Linked DNA regions of Homo sapiens. The protein of the gene in region 3 purifies or fractionates together with the protein of the main gene of each other region. This does not show direct contact. Each region holds a gene or a part of one and is shown on either strand. Other genes may lie near its edges.

The links.
Region 1: the proteins of PCDHA12 (region 3) and CNNM1 purify together in Homo sapiens (affinity purification with mass spectrometry; 2 studies listed by BioGRID and IntAct, with this or other methods). This does not show direct contact.
Region 2: the proteins of PCDHA12 (region 3) and HCN1 purify together in Homo sapiens (co-immunoprecipitation; one large-scale study listed by IntAct). This does not show direct contact.
Region 4: the proteins of PCDHA12 (region 3) and SLC25A15 purify together in Homo sapiens (affinity purification with mass spectrometry; one large-scale study listed by BioGRID and IntAct). This does not show direct contact.
Region 5: the proteins of PCDHA12 (region 3) and TMEM192 purify together in Homo sapiens (affinity purification with mass spectrometry; 2 studies listed by BioGRID and IntAct, with this or other methods). This does not show direct contact.
Region 6: the proteins of PCDHA12 (region 3) and TCEAL2 purify together in Homo sapiens (affinity purification with mass spectrometry; 2 studies listed by BioGRID and IntAct, with this or other methods). This does not show direct contact.
Region 7: the proteins of PCDHA12 (region 3) and ACAD10 purify together in Homo sapiens (affinity purification with mass spectrometry; 2 studies listed by BioGRID and IntAct, with this or other methods). This does not show direct contact.

The regions. Positions count from the first base shown.
Region 1 is NC_000010.11:99,381,356-99,384,855, reverse strand, and holds part of CNNM1 (metal transporter CNNM1), read right to left. Parts: intron 1-3,500. UniProt on the Homo sapiens protein: Probable metal transporter.
Region 2 is NC_000005.10:45,254,448-45,256,914, forward strand, and holds the end of HCN1 (potassium/sodium hyperpolarization-activated cyclic nucleotide-gated channel 1), read right to left. Parts: 3' UTR 501-2,467; downstream 1-500. UniProt on the Homo sapiens protein: Hyperpolarization-activated ion channel that are permeable to sodium and potassium ions. Displays lower selectivity for K(+) over Na(+) ions.
Region 3 is NC_000005.10:140,881,808-140,885,307, forward strand, and holds part of PCDHA12 (protocadherin alpha-12 isoform 1 precursor), read left to right. Parts: intron 1-316; exon of another isoform or gene 317-461; coding exon of another isoform or gene 462-2,885; exon of another isoform or gene 2,886-3,073; intron 3,074-3,500. Other genes in the region: PCDHA13 (protocadherin alpha-13 isoform 1 precursor), read left to right, coding at 462-2,855. UniProt on the Homo sapiens protein: Potential calcium-dependent cell-adhesion protein. May be involved in the establishment and maintenance of specific neuronal connections in the brain.
Region 4 is NC_000013.11:40,799,611-40,803,110, reverse strand, and holds part of SLC25A15 (mitochondrial ornithine transporter 1), read right to left. Parts: exon of another isoform or gene 2,387-3,500; intron 1-2,386.
Region 5 is NC_000004.12:165,106,361-165,109,860, forward strand, and holds part of TMEM192 (transmembrane protein 192), read right to left. Parts: intron 1-3,500.
Region 6 is NC_000023.11:102,124,505-102,128,212, reverse strand, and holds TCEAL2 (transcription elongation factor A protein-like 2), read right to left. Parts: upstream 2,535-3,708; 5' UTR 2,407-2,534; intron 1,841-2,406; 5' UTR 1,768-1,840; intron 1,410-1,767; 5' UTR 1,383-1,409; coding exon 699-1,382; 3' UTR 501-698; downstream 1-500. UniProt on the Homo sapiens protein: May be involved in transcriptional regulation.
Region 7 is NC_000012.12:111,692,553-111,696,052, reverse strand, and holds part of ACAD10 (acyl-CoA dehydrogenase family member 10), read right to left. Parts: intron 3,357-3,500; 5' UTR 3,344-3,356; coding exon 3,157-3,343; intron 1-3,156.

The DNA.
Region 1 (3,500 bases), on a different chromosome or scaffold from region 3:
ACCTCAGGTGACATCACCCTCCTCAGCCTCCCAAAGTGCTGGGATTACAGGTGTTAGCCACTGCACCCGGCCTCTTTTTGTTTTTAAAAAACAATGATAAGCCCCTCTTGTTACCTGGAATCAAGGATCCAGGAACTCTAACCCTCTTTTTAAGCATTGTCAGGGAGGAAAGGACGGGAAGAAAGTATTTTTGGTAACAATACTGAGTGAATGGGACACACTTCCTCGTGAGGTACCGAGTTCCTCATCATTGGAGGCATTCACACAGATGTTAAGCCACCACTTGTCAGTGATGCTAAAGAGAAGATTCAGACGGCCACACTAGTGGGAAGAAGCACGGCAGTGTATGGCAGTGAGGGTGGGGAGGGGGAGGGGCTGGAGAGGGTCTGCACTGTTGGTGGGTGTTTATATAAAAGGAAAGGTACCACCCAATGGCTAAATCCTCTATGTGACTCACAGCCTTAACAGCCTTGCTTTCTTTCACACAGCTCTCTTTTTAAAAAAAATTTTTTTTTAAATCATGAACTCCTGCCATGTCAATGTGTTGCCTTAAAAGAAATTGTTGACAAGGTGCCAATGTATCCAGGGAAGCAACTCTGCTCTGCCTCTCCCAGAGGCATTTCTAGGTTCGGGTATCACTTCTTGTCAGTTCCTTCCCCTTGTTCAACAACTCATGACAACTTATTTTAATCTAGCGTAATACTGTTGAAGAGAAATGTAACGTGAGTCCCGTCGGTAATTCAAAGTTTTCTAGTAGTCACATTTTAAAAAGTAAAAACAAGTTAATTTTAATAACATATTTCATTTAACCCAATATATCCAAAATAATTTCACATCATCATGTGATTAGTTAAAGTGATTAGTGAGGAATTTTACATTCTTTTTCGCACTGGTCTTGAAATACAATGTGTATTTTGCACTTATAGCACATCAGTTGGAAAGAGACACACTTCATGCATTCAACAGCCACATGTAACTAAATGGCTGTATTTATACATGGCTACTGGCTGCTGTACTGGATGGTGAAGGTTTAGTGGACGGCCTAAACAGCTGTGCCCAGTTTCGATGACCTGGCCTCGCAGGGCCAACAGCACTCCCACTACTCACCAGGACAGAACCACTGGTCCCACCCAGCTTCTCTCTCTACCCAGTCCCTCGAATGCGCCATGTCTACTTGCCTTCCATACCTGTTTAAGGGTGTCCCTTTGCATGGCATTGCCTTAATTCTCCTCTTGTTCTTTCCAAACTCCTAAAGTACATTCTCCAGCCAATTAGTGCTTAAAAAATTCCAGATAGTGGCTCACACCTGTAATCCCAGCACTTTGGGAGGCCGAGGCGGGCGGATCACAAGGTCAGGAGTTCGAGATCAGCCTGACCAACATGGTGAAACCTTGTCTCTACTAAAAATACAAAAATTAGCCAGGCGTGGTGGCGCATGCCTGTAATCCTGACTACTCAGGAGGCTGAGGCAGGAGAATCGCTTGAACTCAGGAGGCGGAGGTTGCAGTGAGTTCACTGAGTTGAACTCAGTGAGGTAGAAGATCACGCCACTGCACTCCAGCCTGGGGGACAGAGTGAGACTCCGTCAAAAAACAAAAAAAAATTCCACATAATTTTGTAATGAATTAGATAGTACCCTGCATTGGTCACTATTATTTAACTTACCTTAAGCTTCCTCTCTCTAACTGGTCTTAATCTACTTATAAGGCAGAGGATATATTTTTATTAGATTTATATTTCTGTAGTATAGCTCATGGCACCCAGAACCATTGTTAATGCTTAACAAATACTTATCAATTAGTTGACTGAGGGAATCAAGCCACTTTTCAACAGACTCCATGTTTTTGTTTCCTCTTCATTGCAGTAGATATAACCATTTATTAGCAACAGCTTTAGTTCAAATTGTCTTCTCTTATAGAGTGGCCAGTTTAGAATCCAATCACCCACTAAGCTACAAAGGAAGCGGAGGTCTGTTTATTCTGAAAGTAGTGAAAAGCAAGGGTGGCTTTCTGGACTTTTTGACTTAGCAGCCAAGGTGTCCAGAAGTTAACCTTTAGGCTAATGTGATGTCTCCTGTCATTTTATTTTAGAGACAGGGTCTCACTCTGCTGTGCAGGCTGGAGTGCAGTGGCATGATCACAGCTCACTGTAACCTTGAACTCCTGGGTTTAAGCAATCTTCCTGCCTCAGCCTCCCAAGTAGCTGGGACTACAAGTGCATGCCACCATGCCTGGCTAATTTAAAAATTTATTTTTATAGAGATGGGGGTCTCACTTTGTTGCCCAGGCTGGTCTCACACTCCTGGCCTCAAGTGATTCTCCTGTCTCAGCCTCCCAAAGTGGTGGGATTACAGGTGTGAGCCACTGCACCTGGCCTCCTATCATGGTATGATGTTGTTTTCACTTTCAAGTGGTTTATTCATCCCTGAAGACACAATGCTGCAATCTAGGGTGATGAGGAATCTTGGTCAAGGTTACGTAGTCCAGACTGTAAGACATCTGCCAAGTAGTCTTAGCTTAATGATGACACAGAACACATTTCAAAAAACTTACTTCATAAGAATTCTTTGGTACCTTCATAACTTATTAACTACCATTAATCATGGCTTTGTTTAACACCTTTCCCAGATAACTATTAGATGCACCTTTCTATCTCATTTTGTAACTTATCTTGAAGTTCAATTACTCCTGGACTTAATTCTGGACCTTCAGTCTGTTGGATATAAAAAGCCCTTGAGAAACCTTCCAGCAGCCAACCACAGGGGCTTCGCCCTGTGAAAACACTCATCTTGCAGTCTTCTCTTTAGCTTCCCCCAAAACCCTCATGTTAAAAAACACAATAACAACAGAAGGAAAGATGGGGAGAGACAGGTGAGGGAAGTAGATAAATGAGTGGCCTAAATAACGTCCCTAACACAGTCTAATCAATCAGGAGGAGGTAATTTTCAAAGTTAATCTAAGGCAGAATCTTATATTAAAAAAAAAAGAAAAGAGAAAATCAAAACAAAAAAGACACTTGTGTTAAAAAAAAGAGCTTGAACTCACAGAATTCCTTTTTGGAGAACTACCCATTTTAATCAAAGTTTTTTTTTTGTTTTTTGGTTTTTTTTTTTGAGACGGAGTTTCGCTCTTGTCGCCCAGGCTGGAGTGCAGTGGCGCCGATCTCGGCTCACCGCAACCTCCGCCTCCTGGGTTCAAGCAATTCTCCTGCCTCAGCCTCCCGAGTAGCTGGGATTACAGGTGCCTGCCACCATGACTGGGTAATTTTTTTATTTTTAGTAGAGATGGGGTTTCGCCATGTTGGCCAGAGTGGTCTTGAACTCCTGACCTCAAGTGATCTGCCTGCCTCAGCCTCCCAAAGTGCTGGGATTACAGGTGTGAGCCACCGCGCCTGGCCTAAAGAGGTTTTTGAATAACACTCTTTTTTTTCCTTTTTTTTTTTTTTTTGAAGACAGAGTCTCACTCTTGCCGCTCAGGTGGAGTGCAATGGCCTCGGCTCAC
Region 2 (2,467 bases), about 96 Mb from region 3:
TTGTAAAATGCACCAAACTGCGCTCTGTAAAATGCACCAATCAGTGCTCTGTAAAATGCACCAATCAGCAGGAGTCTAAAAGTAGCCAATCGCAGGGAGGATTGAAAAAAGGCACTCTGATAGGACAAAAATGGAACATGGGAGGGGACAAATAAGGGAATAAAAGCTGGCCACCCCCAAGCCAGCAGAGGCATCCCACTGGGGTTTGCTTCCACCTGTGGAAGCTTTGTTTTCACTCTTACTGCTCCTTACTCTTTGGGTCTGTGCCATTTTTAAGAGTTGTAACACCGCAAAGGTCCGTGGCTCCATTCTTGAAGTCAGTGAGACCATGAACCCACTGGAAGGAACCAACTCCGGACACAATATGACTATATAATTCTACCATGGGTAGAATAAGCAAGTAGAGCAAGACATAAGCAGTAGAGCCAGTTTTTGTAGTCAGGCTTTCTAAACACTGCAGGTGTATAGATATAGCTGATGAAGAGAAGCTCTTTGCAAAATATTGACCACATTCATTTATTTTTATAATGTCAATGTATTATTGATAGCATTAAAAATGTTACAGAAGGCAATGGACACATTGTACTGATGTGATATTAAGAAACATTGCTAGCTATGGCACCAAAATTTATGTGACATAAGGAAATTATAATACCTAACACATATTAGTTTTCTCTTCCCTGGTTCTAACTAGCAAGTGCCAGGAGGCAGGCTGGGTTAGACAGCGTGACCAAGAGTAAACTTTGGATGGTCCAGGATAAAATTATAACATAGGTGGTTTGTCGTTGCTTGTGTTTATTTAATGTTCTCTCGCTTTCCTTGTCTAGCCAAGATCCCATGCTATGTTGACTTGTCATCTCCAGAAATGTCTTCACACTTGGAAGTTCCCTTAAAAAGCCCTTAAAATTTACCTCCTCTAGGACTTACTAGTTCCAATTTTTTCAATATTAATACACATATGAATCATCTGGGGATCTTGCCCAAAAGCGGACTTCTGTAGGTACAGGGTAAGGCCAAGGACTCTGCACTTCTTGTAATTATACTTCTGGGTGATACTGACGCTGCAGTTCCATGCACCACACTTTCCACAGTGAGGCACGCAAGAACATTTAGAACTGCACATTTTAAACAGAATTGTAATATGTTAGGTTGGTAATAGATGTTAGAAGAGTTAGGCAAACAAGATTTAATTTTGAATGCTTGGAAACTAAGACCTTGAACAAATATGAGAAAGAAATGAGAATACATTTGGAAAACTCTTTTTGAATCTTTCAAATTTCTTTGGGTTATGTTCTTTCTTCCTTCAAAAGTAAATCTTTCCTTTCTCAGGAGTTTTCCTCACAAATTTAACAGGAAATAAAAACCTTTCAAGAAAGTCTCTTTGCCTCTACACATCTGAATATTCTCTGTAGAAAACGATGCAACCTGTTTTTTTGCAAAATTCCGTTATTTAAAAAAAAAAGTCTGAATAACTCTACGTTACCTGAATTCAATTATATAATCTATTGGAAACATAAAGTGGTCCTCTTTTGAAGAATTATTATATTTACTAATTTATTCAGATTTCTTCAATTGAATGAATCAATAGTATTCTCTGCTCATATGGTATTACTGAAACAACTACATAGAAAAAAATAGCAGGGCCGGGTGCGGTGGCTCAGGCCTGTAATCCTAGCACTTCTGGAGGGTGAGGCGGGCGGATCACTTGAGGTTAGGGGTTCGAGACCGGCCTGGCCAACATGGTAAAACCCTGTCTCTACTAAAAATTACAAAAATTTAGCTAGCCATGGTGGCGGGCACCTGTAATCCCAGCTACTCTGGAGGCTGATGCAGGAGAATTGCTTAAACCTGGGAGGCTGATGTTGCAGTGGGCCAAGATCCTGCCATTGCACTCCCACCTGGGTGACAGAGCCAGACTCCATCTTAAAAAAAAAAAAAAAAAAAGATGTTTCCCTTTGGGAGTAAATGGCCATTGATGTTACATTAGAAATATAATAGCTCCAAAGAATGTTCACCTTTGCCACTCTTTGGAGCGTGTGTGATATCTCCAATAGAAATTAAAGAACTGGCTTCACTTTTTTGTTTGTTTGGGTTTTTCTTGAGAAAGGGTTTTGCTCTGTCCCCCAAGCTGGAGTGCAGTGGAACGAACAGGGCTCACTGCAGCCTTGACCTCCTAAGTTCAAGCGATCCTCCTGCCTTAACTTTCTGAGTAACTAGGACTACAGGAATACACCACCTATAGTCGGGTTTTCTAAACACTGCAGGTATGTAAGTATATACTGGTCAATTAAAAAAATTTTTTTTCCTTGTAGAGACCAGGTCTTGACATGCTGCCCTGGTTGGTCTCCAATTCCTGGCCTCAAGCATTCCTCCCACTTTGGCCTCCCAAAGTGCTAGGATTACAGGCATGAGCCACCACGCCTGGCCTGAGAACTTGCTTTATTTTAGCCAAAATTATTTTATCACT
Region 3 (3,500 bases):
AATATTCTTTGTCTTAAAGTTCTGCATGGAATTCTTACACATGGAAAAATAAATTTGTGGCAAAATGAAACTCATCAACCAATTGTCAGCTAATATAAAATGTTGAGCAGAATGCAGTGATTTGCTGTTTCTGGGAAGGTAAACATTTAATCTTCAATTACATATTTGCAGTGAAAATGTCAGGAAATGCAAGGGGCAAAAAAATACTACATCAATGGAAAATATGAAGACTGAGTCATACTTACACTTACACGTTCATGCGCATGGTGTCGCTCTTCACTGAGAACGTTTCCGCGAAGAAAGCCGCCGTTTCTTTCTTCCTGCAGAAAATATAGCAGAAAGCGGAATACCTCTTGCGAATCCTTCCGCACTAGGAAGCCATAAAAATTGGGCCTTGAGAGACAGTTTGAGGTAAGGCGTTGTATATATTGCAGATAGCTCTGAGGTTTTTGGAGTGTACCATGCTGTCTTCCTGGCAAGGAGGCCCAAGACCGCGGCAACTACTGCTCTGGCTTCTGATCCTCGCAGCCTGGGAGACGGGTAGTGGCCAGCTCCACTACTCCGTCCCCGAGGAAGCAAAACACGGCACCTTCGTGGGCCGCATCGCTCAGGACCTGGGGCTGGAGCTGGCGGAGCTGGTGCCGCGCCTGTTCCGGGTGGCGTCCAAAAGACACGGGGACCTTCTGGAGGTAAATCTGCAGAATGGCATTTTGTTTGTGAATTCTCGGATCGACCGCGAGGAGCTGTGTGGGCGGAGCGCGGAGTGCAGCATCCACCTGGAGGTGATCGTGGACAGGCCTCTGCAGGTTTTCCATGTGGAGGTGAAGGTGAGGGACATTAACGACAACCCGCCCATATTCCCTGAAAGCAAGAAACGAATAATCATTGCAGAATCTAGACCTCCGGAAACTCGATTTCCACTAGATGGCGCATCCGATGCAGATATTGGAGTAAACTCGGCATTGACCTACCGACTGGATCCCAACGATTATTTCACTTTGGACGCACAAAACAGTCTTGAGCAAATGTCTTCATTATCACTTGTACTGAGGAAAACACTGGACAGAGAGGAAATTCAGGAACATAGTTTATTACTGACAGCCAGTGATGGAGGTAAACCCGAGCTGACTGGCACAGTTCAGCTGCTCATCACGATTCTGGACGTGAATGACAACGCCCCGGAATTTTACCAATCCGTTTATAAAGTGACGGTGTTAGAGAACGCCTTCAATGGAACATTAGTGATCAAGCTAAATGCCACAGATCCTGATGATGGTACAAATGGAGATATAGTTTACTCATTTAGAAGGCCTGTATGGCCTGCAGTGGTATATGCATTTACCATAAATCCGAACAATGGAGAAATTAGGACAAAAGGCAAACTAGATTTCGAAGAAAAGAAATTATATGAAATATCCGTGGAGGCAGTTGACAAAGGAAATATTCCAATGGCGGGTCATTGTACCCTTTTGGTGGAAGTACTAGATGTAAATGATAACGCCCCAGAGGTTACCATCACTTCTTTGTCACTCCCCATCAGAGAAGACACTCAGCCTAGCGCCATTATTGCCCTAATCAGTGTGTCCGATCGTGACTCTGGCTCAAATGGACAGGTCACCTGCACCTTGACGCCGCATGTCCCCTTCAAGCTGGTGTCCACCTACAAGAACTACTACTCATTAGTGCTGGACAGCGCCCTGGACCGCGAGAGCGTATCAGCCTATGAACTGGTGGTGACCGCGCGGGACGGGGGCTCGCCTTCGCTGTGGGCCACGGCCAGCGTGTCGGTGGGGGTGGCCGACGTGAACGACAACGCGCCGGCGTTCGCGCAGCCCGAGTACACGGTGTTCGTGAAGGAAAACAATCCGCCGGGCTGCCACATCTTCACGGTGTCTGCTCAGGACGCGGACGCACAGGAGAACGCGCTGGTCTCCTACTCGCTGGTGGAGCGGCGGGTGGGCGAGCGTGCGCTGTCGAGCTACGTGTCGGTGCACGCGGAGAGCGGCAAGGTGTACGCGCTGCAGCCGTTGGACCACGAGGAGCTGGAGCTGTTGCAGTTCCAGGTGAGCGCGCGCGACTCTGGCGTGCCGCCTCTGGGCAGCAACGTGACGCTGCAGGTGTTCGTGCTGGACGAGAACGACAACGCTCCGGCGCTGCTGACGCCCGGGGCTGGCAGCGCGGGAGGCACAGTGAGCGAGCTGATGCCGCGGTCGGTGGGTGCAGGCCACGTGGTGGCGAAGGTGCGCGCGGTGGACGCCGATTCGGGCTACAATGCGTGGCTTTCGTATGAATTGCAGCTGGCGGCGGTCGGCGCGCGCATCCCGTTCCGCGTGGGGCTGTACACTGGCGAGATCAGCACGACGCGCCCTCTGGACGAGGTGGACGCGCCGCACCACCGCCTTCTGGTGCTGGTGAAGGACCACGGTGAGCCCGCGCTGACGGCCACGGCAACGGTGCTGTTGTCGCTGGTGGAGAGCGGCCAAGCGCCACAGGCTTCGTCGAGGGCGTCGGCAGGCGCTGTGGGTCCAGAAGCGGCGCTGGTGGATGTCAATGTTTACTTGATCATTGCCATCTGCGCGGTGTCCAGCCTGTTGGTGCTCACGTTGCTGCTGTATACTGCGCTGCGGTGCTCGGCACCGCCCACCGAGGGCGCGTGCGCGCCGGGCAAGCCCACTCTAGTGTGCTCCAGCGCGGCAGGGAGTTGGTCGTACTCGCAGCAGAGGCGGCCGAGGGTGTGCTCTGGGGAGGGCCCGCATAAGACGGACCTCATGGCCTTCAGTCCCAGCCTTCCTCCTTGTCTGGGTTCTGCAGAGGGAACAGGCCAGAGGGAGGAGGACTCAGAATGCTTGAAAGAGGTAAGCTTATATTTTAAAAAATTGTCTTAGTAAACACTTTAGCCTTCCTTGCAGTTGTTTGTTTAAGACATCTTTCCTGCCAATTTCAAATTATTCTTTACTTTAATTTTAATTTTGCTAGTTGTTATCGAATTTAACAACTCTGCTGTGGACATTATGTGTTGGATTATCCTTCAGAGTGAAATCTTAACTCACAAACCATAATGAAATGTGCAAAACAAGAATATTTTGTTTCTGTTGTATTCTTAATAGTTCTAAGTATTTATCTTGCAATTGAGCATTTACAAAAAATTCCTCACGTTGTGAGAACTTAAACATTTAGAAAATGTTTGTTTTAATGAGGCTAATCGTAATCTTAAATTTAAAAAATTTTTAGTTTAATGTATACATATACCCACAAGATATTATTTTAAAGAGCCCCATAACTTTTCACATAAATGCTTTTTTTAAGTGCACTTTTCTTTCTTTCTTTTTTTAAACTGTTTTGATTGTCTCTACTTTTTTGTCCTCTAGGCACATCAGTGTTCCCCTCTCATATATCCCATGAAAAATATCTTGTGATTCTGCTTTCAATTTTTTATTTGCATTCAGATAATTACTCATACATATATATATACATATATAGAGAGAGACCTGGTAGGCTTT
Region 4 (3,500 bases), on a different chromosome or scaffold from region 3:
TCATGGGATCATGACTGGCATTTGGGGGTAGGACAATCCTTCATTGGGCAGGAAGGACTGAACTGGTTCCCTGACACCCATTCAATGCCAGCATCATGCTCTCACTGGACAGCCAAGATCACCCTCAGAGATTTCCAAAAACCCCTAAGGGTGGGTGGGAATCTCCTCAGCTAACTACTCAGGTAGAGATATAATCCCCTAACAATTTTTCTCCAAACTGTGAGCAAAAGCACAGATGGGGCAGGGCACGGTGGCTCACACCTGTAATCCCAGCACTTTGGGAGGCCGAGGTGGGCAGATCACGAGGTCAAGAGATCAAGACCATCCTGGCCAACATGGTGAAACCCCATCTCTACTAAAATACAAAAATTAGCTGGGCATGGTGGTGGGCGCCTGTAGTCCCAGCTACTCGGGAGGCTGAGGCAGGAGAATTGCTTGAACTGGGGAGGCGAGGTTGCAATGAGTTAAGATTGCGCCACTGCACTCCAGCCTGGGCGACAGAGTGAGACTCCGTCTCAAAAAAAAAAAAAAAGCACAGATGGACTTACCATATTCAGGGGTACTCAAGTTTTTCCAGTGTTAAAGATTAGTATAAAATCAAGGTGGCACCAGTCTTGGCCCTGGTTTGCTAGTCCCTGGTGGTCTAGCTTCTGTACCATGGCCAGAGGCAACTCTTTCAGAAGACTTGGCTTAGAGTGGAGCTTTCTTTCAGTAGGAAGACACTGTTTGCAGTAAGGACTTCCTTTTGATGTTAGAGAATTAAGCCTAAAACCATTAGCAAAGGAGAACCAGGTACACAAATGTACTTGCACACGCTTTTATGGGGTGTGGAAACCATCCAATGCTGTTCAGTCCACTCCTTTCCCCCACTTCACTCCTTAGCAGCTTGTTAGAACTGAAGCTTAAAATGGTTTCTGTTGTCTTGCAGCCAGCCTGCAGATCCACAGTTGGCCTCCCTCAGGGACTCTCTGTTAACCTGTTGACAGGCAATAGTCAATTAGGAGCATTAACCAGGATCTGCCAAGTTTGCCAGGACAAAGGTGGCAGTCAATAAATGTAGAAGTCTATTGAGTTTAAGATATAATAATGGCTCAGACATCTGAATGAACACCAAGCACATTATTATAGTGCAAGGACACAGTCAAATCAGATATGCAGTGGACTTTGGCTTTCCAATAAATACTTTCATTGACCAGTGCACAGAAGGAGGTGCATGGGCCCCTGGTTCTGCATGTAGTATGAATGTGTAGAACTGGAATTGAAACAGTAATAGGTATAGGATGGGATTTTGTAAGAATCATCCATTTGTCATATGTTCAACAAACATGTACCTGAGCACTCCTGCTATGTAAGACCCTGTCCAGCCAAACGTCAAACTAGAACATTCTGGGTCATGTTGAAACCGGGAACAGACAAATATTTACAATGTGATTGCAGAAATTCACCACAGGCTCTCACAAGCAGTTCTTTCCTTTCACTGCTCCTGATTAATCTTCTCTCTAGAACTGACCCTTATAAAATATTCCAGACCCCCAACTGTGGTCTGATGGAAAGGAGACTGGGCAGGAGCTCAGAGGACACAATTTCAAGTCCTTAGCGGGGTGACCTTGAGCAGGTCAACATCGGCACCTCAGTTTTCCATCCCTAAGAGAGGTAACATCTGCCTTGCTCTTCTCACAGGATCACGGTGAGGGCTATAGAGACATGATATACATGTCAGAGCTTTGTAGACTCTAAGAGAGCATTTCCCCAACAGGTAAGAGGCAAACACTGTTCCTCAGGATGGAAAAAAAAAACGGGCCCAAGCTCAAAAAAGATGAGTGCTGGATTAGACAAGGTTAATCAGGATGGTTTCTTTTCTTTTCTTTTTTTTTTTTTTTTGAGAGACACAGTCTCGCTCTGTTGCCCAGGCTGGAGTGCAGTGGCATCATCTCACTGCAACCTCTGCCTCCTGAGCTCAAGCAATCCTCCCACCTCAGCCTCCCTGGTAGCTGGGACCACAGACATGTGCTACCACACTCAGCTAAGTTTTGTATTTTTTGTAGTGACGGGGTTTTGCCATGTTGCTCAGGTTGGTCTCAAACTCCTGGGCTCAAGTAATCTGCCCACCTCAGCCTCTCAAAGTGCTGGGACTACAGGCGTGAGCCACTGTGCCCAGCCTTACGCATCTTTAATGAACTAAATAACACATACACTATATGAAATAAATGTACCCAGAGTGATTCTTCACGAGAGAGACACTGTGACGTAATTTCCCAACCCTTTCTTAAGGACACCCAGCAATTCAATGTTCTGAAAGCAGTGTGGGAAAATGCAGCTGTAAGGTATTAGATTGTTCTCAGCAGAAAAGCAATATGCTCTTACCTGTCCTTCACTTTGTTCACAGGCTAAGGAAGCAAGAAAGTGGAGGGGCGGGCAGAGCCAGATCCAGTGGTTTCACTCATGCAAGACAGAAGTCACTGTCTATCCTGTGGCTGGAGGGGCTACTTTGCTCAGAAGACACAGGTCTTCCCCAGAATCTCACGTGGCTGCTTACTGTTTCCCTGTCTTCTCTCCCCATTTTGTCCTTTGCTAAGGAAACTGAACTGAATTCCAGGTCTTCTCTAATAGAGTGTCTCTCCTTCAACAGGGAACAAAACTACAGTTGCCTGTAGTTTTTGCTTCTGTTCAGTCTCCATCATGGCATGCCATACTCTCCTGGTTTGTGCCCTGCTTGTTTCTTTACTGCCTTCCTGCCTGCCCTTTCTGTGCTGGAGGCTCATCCCATTCATGCTCAGCCCTCCTCGCTGTCTACACTGTCTTCTTGGGCAATCGTATCTAGTCCCAAGCCTTTTTAAAAAACAAGCTCTACCCATCATGGTGGAATTCCTGTCTATAAAAGGGCACACCTTCAGACCTCCAGGCACCTCCAGAGAACAGTGCTGTGCACAAGAAACCGAATTCAGTTGTGTGGGACCTGCAGCTGCAATCAGGTTTCAAACTCCTACTGAAATAACTAAGACTGCCCTTTGCAATCTTGAAGCTTATATAATAATTTTAAGTGGTATAAAATAAATCAACATTCAAAGCAGGGATAGCTAAACATCCCAGTGGTTTCCAAATTCTGTTTAGTCTCTATATAATAAATACCCAAGGCAAGACCAACAAAGAGGCAAAGTCTGATGTTTTGGGAAGATTTGGACAGAGAAAGGTGGGTTCCCTTGCATCTTCGCAGACATTTCCGACCCTTCCTAAAACTCCTCAAGTTCATCTGGCTCAGACAACCTCTTCCAATACTCTGCTTTTTGCTAATGAAAGAAAAGCTAAATCTTGGATCATAAGCAGCATCTACAGTTTCAGTGCAGCATGTCTGCTGACGAGAGGTAGCACTGCCAGCTGCATCTGAACAGCATTCTCCTGGAGAAAACTGAAACAGAAGGGCGGTTCATTCTCAGTGGTGGATGATGAGCAGGTCTCCTCTGTGGTGTGCATATGTGGTTTCTAAGTTTTATATGATGACA
Region 5 (3,500 bases), on a different chromosome or scaffold from region 3:
GCTCCAAGACAAACATTCGTGTTTCTCTCCTCAAAAACTTTGGGTAGCTCCCTATGATGGTCAATATTAAGTGTCAAATGGATGGCAAAGTATCGTCTGTGAGGAGCCAAACATTTGAGTCAGTGGACTGGGAGAGGAAGACCCACCCTCAATATGGGCAAGCACCATCCAATCAGCTGCCAATGCAGCTAGAACAAAGCACAGAATAGGCGTATAAGCAGCTTGCTGAGTTTTCTGGCTCTCTCTTTCCTGCGTCAGATGCTTGCCTCCTTAATTCCTGCCTTTGGACATCAGACTCCAGATTCTTCGGCCTTTGGACTCTGAAACCTGCACCAGCAGCTTGCCTGGGGCTCTCAGGCCTTCGGCTGCCGACTGAAGGCTGCGCTGTTGGCTTCCCTGGTTTTGAGGCTTTTGAACTTGGACTGAGCCACTACCACCTTCCCTTTCCCCAGCTTGCAGGTGGCCTATCATGGGACTTCACTGTGTAATCTTGTGAGCTAATTCTCCCTAATAAACCCCCTTTTTATATATACATATATCCTATTGGTTCTGTCCCTCTGGATAATCCTAATACGATCCCCAAATCCTCAGGACAAAGTCCAAATTCTTAGTCTATCGCTTTACAATCTGTCCCCAAGTAACTTCTCAGGATTTTTTTTCTCTCTTTTTTTTTTCTTTTTTTGAGACAGAGTCTTGCTCTGTCCCCCAGGCTGGAGTGCAATGGCATGATCTCAGCTCACTGCAACCTCTGCTTCCTGGGTTCAAACAATTCTCCTGCCTCAGCCTCCCAAGTAGCTGGAATTACAAGTGCCCGACACCTTGTCCAGCTAGTTTTTGTATTTTTAATAGAGACGGGGTTTCACCATGTTGGCCATGCTGGTCTCAAACTCCTGACCTCAAGTGGTCCACCCTCAGCCTCCCAAAGTGCTGGGATTACAGGTGTGAACCACTGTACCCAACCTTTTTTTTTAAAACAAAAACAAAAACAAAAAAAAAAACAGGGTCTCACTCTGTCACCCAGGCTGGAGAACAGTGGCACGATCTCGGCTCACTGCAGCCTCCGTGCCCCCCTCCCCAGGCTCAAGAAATCCTCCTACCTCAGTCTCACGAGTAGCTGGGACCAGAGGCACACTCCACTATGCTTGGCTAATTTTTGTATTTTTAGTAAAGGTGAGATTTCACCATGTTGCCCAGGCTGGTCTTGAACTCCAAAACTCAAGCAATCCACCCACCTTGGCCTCCCAAAGTGCTGGGATTACAGGCATAAGCCACCACGCCTGGCCAAGGATTTGCCTCTCACCATTTCCCTCCCTCCTGGTGCCGTCTGCTTATGATACCCGTCTTTCATGAAACACTTTCCATCTCTACACCAGCTCTACTTATTCTTCCCCACCTGTCAAATGCTTGTCCCAGCAAAACCGCCTTCTCTGCGGTGCCTTTTTAGCATTCCCAGCCCCAGCATCATTCCTACTGCACTCTTAATCTGACATTGTAGTTTTCATCTGTACAAGTTTGAGCTGGGTCTACTTTGTATCTTCCATGTCTCTATGTAACTTCTAAATATATAGAAGACATTTATAATAATGTTTAATGTTCACATGCTATTTCTAGCCTATGTCATGTCTGAATCAGTTTCAGTGGACTCAGTACAGCTCACATTTTCCTGCCTCTTAGCATGCCTTGTCATTTTTTATTGGATGCCAGATATTGCAAATTTTACCTCTGTGGGTGCTGGGTATTTTCTGTATTCCCTTTTTTTTTTTTTTTTTTTTTTTTTTTGGAGATGTAGTCTTGCTCTGTCACCCAGGTTGGAGTGCAGTGGCATGATCTCGGCTCACTGCAAGCTCTGCCTCCTGCGTTCACACCATTCTCCTGCCTCAGCCTCCCAAGTAGCTGGGATACAGGCACCCAGCACCACGCCCGGCTAATTTTTTGTACTTTTAGTAGAGACAGGGTTCCACCATGTTAACCAGGATGGTCTCGATCTCCTGACCTCGTGATCCGCTCGCCTCAGCCTCTCAAAGTGCCGGGATTACAGGCATGAGCCACCGCACCCGGCCATTTTCTGTAATCCTATATTCGTGAACTTTGTTCTGGAGTGCAGTCAAGTTACTTGGAAACAGTCTTGCTGTTAAGAAATTAGGTGGGCTTCATCTAAGGCTAATCTAAGGCCTCCACTACTGAGGCAAGACCTTTCTGAGTACTCTACCTACATGCTCTGTGAATTATGAGGGTTCCGTCTGGCTTGTGGGTGAAATAGGCAGTATTCTTGGCCCTGTATGGAGAAACTGTTCCTTCCAATCCTTTTAGGTGGTTCTTTATGAGGCCTCCAAGAGCTTCCTCATGCCCTGATTAGCACTCTACTGGATGCCTGGTAGGCGCAGGGCCAGGGGGCTCCCCGTGCATATCTTCAGAGTTCTCCCTCTTTGTAGCTCTCTCCTCTCTGGGTGCTCTGTCTTGTGAACTCCAGTTACCTCGATCTCCTAGACCCTCAACTCCATCTCCTCAACTCAGAAGTCTGCTGGGCTCTGCCTGGCTTCCCCCTTCCCTGTCACAGCCTGCACACTCTTTCAAGGCAGTAAGCCGGAGCAGTGATAGGGTTCACAGCATTTGTTTCCCATCTCTGAGATTGCTACCCTTCATTGTCTGATGTCCGGTATCTCACAAAGTGTTGTATCATACGTTATATCTAGCTTTTTGGTTGTTTCAGGCAGAATGGTATATCTATTCCCAGTTACTCCATGTTGGCTGGGAATGGAAGTCCCTACTGAACTCTCTTACATCTGTATCTGTATCATAACCTACCATACTAAGCACATGGCATTGAAATTGTCAGAATAAAATGTGCTTTACAAGGGCAGAGACTCTTTTATATTATGTCCTTTGTGCTTTTAACACTTGATACACAGCAGATGCTAAGGTGTTCAATATGCGTGTTGAGAGAAAGAAAGACTGCTCAACTTCTTGTATGCTTCAGACCTGGGAAATTTTTATTTATTTATTTATTTATTTACTTTTGAGACAGAATTTCGCTCTTGTTGCCCAGATTGGAGTGCAATGGTGTGATCTTGGCTCACTGCAACCTCTGCCTCCCAGGTTCAAGCAATTCTCCTGCCTCAGCCTCCTGACCACAGGCTGGGATTACAGGCATGTGCCACCATGCCCAGGTAATTTTTATATTTTTAGTAGATACCGGGTTTCGCCATGTTGGCCAGGCTGGTCTCAAACTTCTGACCTCAGGTGATCCACCCGCCTCAGCCTCCCAAAGTGCTGGGATTACAGGCGTGAGCCACCGCACCTGGCCAGACCTGGGACATTTAAACAAAGCTAGCATTGAAAACTTCACTATAAGACAATAATCTACTTTATCTCCTAATATGTCACTTTCATGCACCTTCTTCTCTCGCCTAAATGAGCTTTCTATAGAGCCCTACAAATATCCTCCCTTACCTTTTTCAGAATTCTATGCATCTTTCAAGGTCCTAACCAAGTTTATGTTC
Region 6 (3,708 bases), on a different chromosome or scaffold from region 3:
CCTCTTCCAAGTGTCTGAGGGGGTATTTTTTTCTGCTAGAGCAGGGGAGAAGGTAGATGCCAACCCAACAAATATATTCTCTACCTTATCCAACCCACTCAGCAGTTCTGAAAAGCAAGGTATTATCTCTATTTGACAAATGAAAAGACTGTCCGTTAGAGCAATGGATCTGTAATAACCCCAGATTGACTTCTCCAGATGAGTCCCACAGGTAGGTAATGTGAATTTTACCTATCATTTTAAGTTCTGACAACAAGAACGTTAAGTGTCTCTACTGAACTTCATAAGTTCACTGGACAGTTATTCTCTTTGCTTTTTACATACTGTTCTGATTTTTTAAAAATATTTTATTATTTTTGTGAGAAAAGTAATTTGTGTTCTCTGGGAAAAGAAAGATTAGTAGAAAGAAAACAAAGAAATGAAATCACCTGCTAGCTCACAACTCAGAAAACCACTGTTAACCTTTCATGTATTTAACAAAAACAGACAGATTCTGTAGATGATATTATAAGCTGCTTTATTTTTCCACGAATCATGACGTCTCTGCAATGCACATGTGTGAAAATCTGCTACTGAAACATAGAGCAAGCAAACACTGGCAGGTGGGTCAAAACGCTACTGGTAGCAGGAGGAACGACTAAAGCAAAGTATTACCATAAGGTTAAAACATATGGCCTGACAAATGCCTGCCAGGGACACTACACATAAGGAATGTCTTCAGTGTCCCTTCGTGGGGCCCTGCAGCCACCCCTGAATTCCCTTGGACCCCTAGGATAGAAGGGGTCCTGTAAATTTCTTTGCATCCACAAAAACGCCCCCAATTTCTGTTTGCTTTTTCTCCTTTTATCCTCCACCCTAGCCATGTTGTCAAATTCTCTTATCATGTCCTCATTGCTGAAATTCATATCATGTATGGCTTCCTTATATTGCTTGAGGTACTGAGCCAGCCCCTTGTTGGTTTTTCTTTTGGCTTTCCTGGGTATATCATCCTCAGCTGGGCGCTTTCCTGCAGCCCTTGTTTCACTTTCTGGCTCTCCCTCACTCTCTGGCTCTCTTTCACTGTCTGGCTCTCCTTCACCCTCTGCCCTTCCCCCTCTCTCTGGCTTTCCCTCTGTCTTTGATCCTCCCTGCATCTCTGACTTTCCCTTCCTCTCTGACTTTCCTTCTCCTTTTGCCTTTCCCGCACTCTCTGGCTTTTCTTTATCCTTTAACGGTTCCTCAACTCTCTTGCCCGTGTTTTCTGTGTTTCCCTCGTTTTCTAACTTCTTGTCTTCCAGAATACAAGCTACTTCTGGCTTTCCCTCGTGCGGTGGCTGTTCTTCATTGTCTATCTTTCCTTGATTCGAAGGCATTCCTTCATTTTCATTGAAGAGTTTTTCCATGTCGAGATTTCCCCTCCTTTTCCTTTCCTGGGGGATGGGTGTGGAGGGAAGAGGAGACAAAGAGGAGACATGGGAGACTGAGGGCATGGGGTGGAATGCAGGTCTGGATACTACTTGCATCTCACCCCTGGTGAGGGTTCCCCTAAGCTGACTGGGCCTCCAAGAGGGCCTTCTGCCCACCACGTAGCCCACCACTCCTCCCACACACGTGAGCCAGCTGTTCCCTGGCAGGCCCTGCCACCTTCTCTGCACTGGTTCAGCCTGGTAAGGTGTGTGTTCATGTAGGTAAGGGGATGGGCAGGGGCCCCAATTCGGCCCTGACTGTGCCCTCCACACTCTCAACCCTTGTGGGCCCCTGTCCATGCAGCCCCCTGCTTTCACGGACCTGCGGGGATTCTGGACAGGTTGCTCTTCCTTTTCAGGCCTCTCAGAGCGCTGGGAACAACAGACGCGCAGACCTGCGGACAGACAGGAGACAGGGGCAGGGGCTGCGCGCTTAGCGGGCTCACAGGGACTCGGTTCCCTTTCCTGAGTCCAGGCCCTGCTTACCCACCGTTTTCCTCCCCTACCTCCCCCGCACCCCAGCCGCCATTTCTTTCCAGGCCTCGGGCACCAAACCAGGATGCTTTCCAAACTGCGTTTGTCTCTGTGTCCCCCTTCCCCGGAGGCAACCTGCCCCAGCGCCACCTCATTTTTGCGGAGATCAAGTGTTTCCATGGGTGTAGATTGTGAGAAGGGGTTATTTCCAGAATATGTCTACGTTTCACTGTCGCACTGCGGGGTCGCTACCCCCACCCCCCATTTCCAGCACTAAAATGGATGGAGGACTCAGTGCAAGGGGGCGTCGAGAAGGCGAGCCAGGCTTGCTTCGGGGGTTCTCCCTCCACTGCCCCCGCCCCCGCGACTCCGCATCCCCCTCCTCCCCAATCTACCGGATCCCTTCTCCGCCCCCTCCCCAATCCTACTGCCAGCCCCCTCCACCCCTGTCCCAGGGTCCGCCGGCAGCGCACGCCTTCACACTGACCTGCGGGGACCCAGGACAGGCCTGTGCCTCCTGCGGCTCGCTGAAGCCCGCTCGCTGCTCCCCCGCCGCCTGGGCAGCTCAGACAGCTGATTCTGCGCGGGCGCCCGGACCCGACCGCTGGGCGGGCTGGCGGGCGGGCGCGGGGGCTGGTGCCCACGTAGGCGCCGGGCGGGTCACGTGAGCACCGCGTCACCGGAGCTCTGCCCCCGCTCTTGCCTGACACACCTCACCTTGGAGCTGGGCCCCCCTCTCTTTCCTGACATACCTCACCTTCCATCCCTGAGGGACCGGAGGCTGGGGACGGTCGGAGTCTCGGTGCGTTTGTGTAGCAAAGTGGGGTCGCGGAGAAGAGGAGGAGAGGTGGCTTTCTGACCCTAGGTGCTTTACCTGACGCAGCTCACAGCATCCTCGCAAGGCATATCTCTCTGATGCCCATTATCGCCAGGTGTGACAGCTGATCATAGAGGTACCGGACTTTGCCAAGAGCGCTCAGCCCCAGAACTCCACAGCCCACTTTCAATACCGGCTCTGCCTGACTCCAGAGCCCGGGGGGTAGTGGTGCCTGCCAGGAAGCTGAGCTGCCACCTTGAGTGGCGGTGTTCCTGGGGTTCTGTCCTGGGCCTCCTCTCTCCTCAGTCCTCAAGTTGTCTCTCCCTGTGTGATCTCATTCATTTCCAGTAAACACCGATGACTCCCAGATCTACAGCTCCAGGCTGTTCCCTTCTCCGTGTCTCATATCAGCTTTGCCAACTGTCTATTGGACATCACCGCCTGAGTGTCCCTGAGGGACCCCAAAGCCCGTGTACCCCAAATTGATTTACCAACTTCCTTCTTGCCATCTCCCTTGGTCTCTCTCCACACTTGAAACTTACCTTCCAACATTTGATCAGTTTTCATAGAGAGAGAATGTCAGACAGGTAGAAAAGAAAGCATTAAAACATTTTAAATATGAATTTCAGATGCACAAATTCATCATAGTCCTTGGTTTACAACACACCCTTATCATCGATCCCTGCTTGTCCCTCTTCCTTCCCTTTTCTTTCCCGTCCTATTATTTCCTCCCCTTCCCATCCTTTGTCTTTTTTTTCTTTCCTTTTCTTTCACATTCGTGAAGCCACCACCCACAAAAACTAAGAATCACCAATATTTTAGCTTCTACAGTATAGTGACATGTATATGTATATATACACATGTTTATTTATACACACATATATGTATAGATGTATATGTGTGTACATATGTATGTGTATGTCTTGTGTATATCTGGGCAACAACTATTTTTATTTTGATTTGCAAAATACC
Region 7 (3,500 bases), on a different chromosome or scaffold from region 3:
TAATTCTAGTGTATATATATATATACTTTTTTTTTTTTTGAGACAGAGTCTTGCTCTGTCTCCCAAGCTGCAGCGCAATGGTATGATCTCAGCTCACTGCAACCTCTGTTTCCCGGGTTCAAGTGGTTCTCCCTGCTCAGCCTCCAGAGTAGCTGCAATTTCAGGTGCCCATCACCATGCCCCGCTTATTTTTGAATTTTTAGTAGAGATTGGATTTTGCCATGTTGGCCAGGCTGGTCTCAAACTCATGACCTCAAGTGATCCGCCCATCTCGTCCTCCCAAAGTGCTGAGATTAAAGGCATGAGCCACCGCACCTGGCCAATTCTAGTATATTCTTATCAAATGACCCTTGATATGGTTCATTTGAAATAAATAACATTAGAAGCTCCAGTCAAGCAAAAGACAAAGTAGAAGGCATCACTATTTTGTTCACATTTACCCATCAAACATTTCCTGAATGACTGAGCCAGCCTGCAGAGCTAACACTGCAACAGTGAAGTGAAGAAATCCCAGACCTGGGGTCCTGGAATCCAAGAGCCCCATAGAGGAGACATGAACATATCCCACTGCAAACAAAAATATCTCGGTGAAGGTGAAACTTAATGGGAATTGGCTATCCAGGAACATTCTGCCCAGGTTGCAAATGAGGTTGGAGAAGTCTTGACAGAAGAGGACTCTTGAAGTTAGTAACAACCATGAGATTTACTGAGTGTTCAAAAGATTCCAGTCATTGCTGAATAATATCCCCTTAAATTTGCCATTAAAAGCATCAGTAGGATTTGAACAGGCAGAGGAGGCAGGGAGGAAACACAGCTTGCAAAGGCACAAACATGCAAATGTGCCTGGCATGCCTGGGGAGCATCAGGTAGTCCATAGCAGGAAAGCTAAAACTGAGAGGAGCCCTGAATCCCAGGTGAAAGCTTCTAGACTTAATCTAGGGGACCACATGCAGGCATTCAAGATTTTCAAGCCAGGGATGAAAGGAACAAGATCTATGCTTTATTTTTATTTTATTTATTATTTTGTGACAGGGTCTCACTTTGTCACCCAGGCTGGAGTGCAGTGGTGCAATCTCAGCTCACTGCAGCCTCAATCGCCCAGGCTAAAGAGTTCCTCCCACCGCAGCCCCTCAAGTAGCTGGGACTACATCCATGCACCACCATGCCCAGGTACGCTTTTTGTATTTTTCGTAGAGACAAGGTTTCACCAGGTTGGCCAGGCTGGTCTTGAACTCCTGTGCTCAAGCGATCTGCCCACCTCGGCCTCCTAAATTGCTGAGATTACAGGTGTGAGCTGCTAAGCGCAGAAGCACGATCCATGTTTTAGAAAGGTTAATTCTGGAGCTGGGAGGAGATTTTGTAAAATCCAGAGAGCCAGAGGCAGAGGAAGTTAGGAGGCTGATGACATCATTTGGGTGAGAGAAGGCAAGGGTGGAGGCAGTGGCAATGGAGAGAAGTGAATTGGTTCTTAAGATATTCTAGAGAAAGTCAAGAAACTTTCTGTCCAGTGATCTTTATGTTCTTCCCTGCTGCCTTTTTTTTTAGAGACAGGTTCTCTAAAAAAGACTGTTGTGCCAGTCTGGGGTGCAGTGGTGCAATCCTAGCTCACCATAGGGTCTCACTGTGTTGCTCAGGTTTAGTCTTTATGTTCTTTGTAGAAGAACAGATTCAGCTATCTGCAGAGCAAGAATATTTGGGGGTGGTAAGGAGCAGGGGGAGTGGACAGTCTGGAACAGCCCCTGAGGTAAACATGACAGAGATACGAGTGAAGGAACAGAGAGATAAGAGTGAAGGAACAGAGAGGCTCAGGCGTAGCACCAATGGCCCAACTGAGGCTGGAGCTCAGAAACCAGCTTGTGCAGCCAGTTAGCACGGCTGAGTAATTTGGTCAGCAGTGCTGGAAAGCCTAGACACGCAGGCATAGAAAACCTGTGCCTGGGTTGATTTAGGATGGAGAACTGGCCAACCAGCCACCACAGAAGGTCAAAAGGAGAGGGATGGCTGCCTGGCCCTTTGTCCTTCCTGCTGGCTGGCATGAGAATATGATAGCAGGAGGCGACACAGCCAAGACAGACCACAATGTAAGAGTGGAAATGAAAAGTCACAGCAGAGCAACATGCTATAAAGAGTCGGAGTCCCTGATACCACAGAGTCGCATCACACAGTGCCCCAGACCACATACCTGGGCTTTTATGTGCAAGAGAAAGAAACTTCTAGCTTGTTTCAGTCACTGTTTTGTTAGGTTTTCTACTGCTTGAAGCCAAAACGACTTTAACTAATAAAAACTGAACTGAGTAGAAAAGAAGTAAAACCAGGAAGGGGCTGGTAAAGAGAAGACCAGAGACCAGAGGGCTGACCCTTACCCTGTCAGTCCAGAAGCAGGTTTAGAGGGAGTGGGGTAGAAGGGAGGAAGGCTGTAATCAAAAGGGGAATTTCAGCATTCTAGATTTCAGAAGTAGAACAGTTCCCAAGAAGAAGTGGTTAAATTCTTTGGGATTTTTGGTTGTTTGTTTTTGAGTAAGGGTCTTGCTCTGTTACCCAGGCTGGAGTGCAGTGGCATGATCACGGCTGACTACAGCCTCAACCACCTGGATTCATGTGATCCTCCGACCTCAGCCTCCTGAGTAGCTAGAACTACAGGTGCCTGTCATCATGCCCAGATAATTTTTAAATTTCTGCAGATACGGGGTCTCACTATGTTGCTCAGGCTGGTCTTGAACTCCTGGGCTCAAACGACCCTCTCACCTCGGCCTCCAAAAGTGCTGGGATTACAGGCTTCAGCCACTGTGCCCTGCCTTGGTGGTTAAATTCTAATCACAGCATTCATGGCAGCTCATCATTGATTGAGAATTTAGGATGCACTGAGCAATCACTGTGCTAAGCAAGTGCTTCCCACGGATAACTCTCCGCCAAATCCCAAGGAGGAAGGCACTACCATTAGCTCATTTAATGATGAGGAAAGTAAGATTTGGAGAAGCTGAATCATGCGCCCAAGACACTCAGCCCCCTAGTGGTGCTTGGAATTCGACTCGAGAGCCAGAGCATGGCCTGCTGGGACACACTGCTGCCCAAGTGTTCCCCTCTGCCTTCCCGATCACCCTCCATTCTCCCACCACCACTCTAGTCCCACAAAGTGAAACAGAATCAATAGCTCACCTGCAGCGACTCTCCCTGGAGAAGGAATGAGAACTCCGCCCATGTCGAAAATCACCGCTCTGTAGGTGCTGCCTCCAAGGTGTGTCCATCGGTGGGACCCCTGGTGCCTGCGCTGGGTGTGTTTCAGGAAGGCTGTTCTCCACACCCACTGGAGACGGGGGGACTGGAAACAGCTCCTGACACACATGGTGAGGCTGAGGCTGTGTGGGAAGAAGGCACAGGGCGTTACTTGCCTGCACTGCCTCCCAACCAGGCCTCCATCCTGGAGCTCAGAGGGGCCAGCCAGACATCTCTAACCCATCTCCAACAGGCACTTCGAATCACACCCACAACTGACCTCAGTG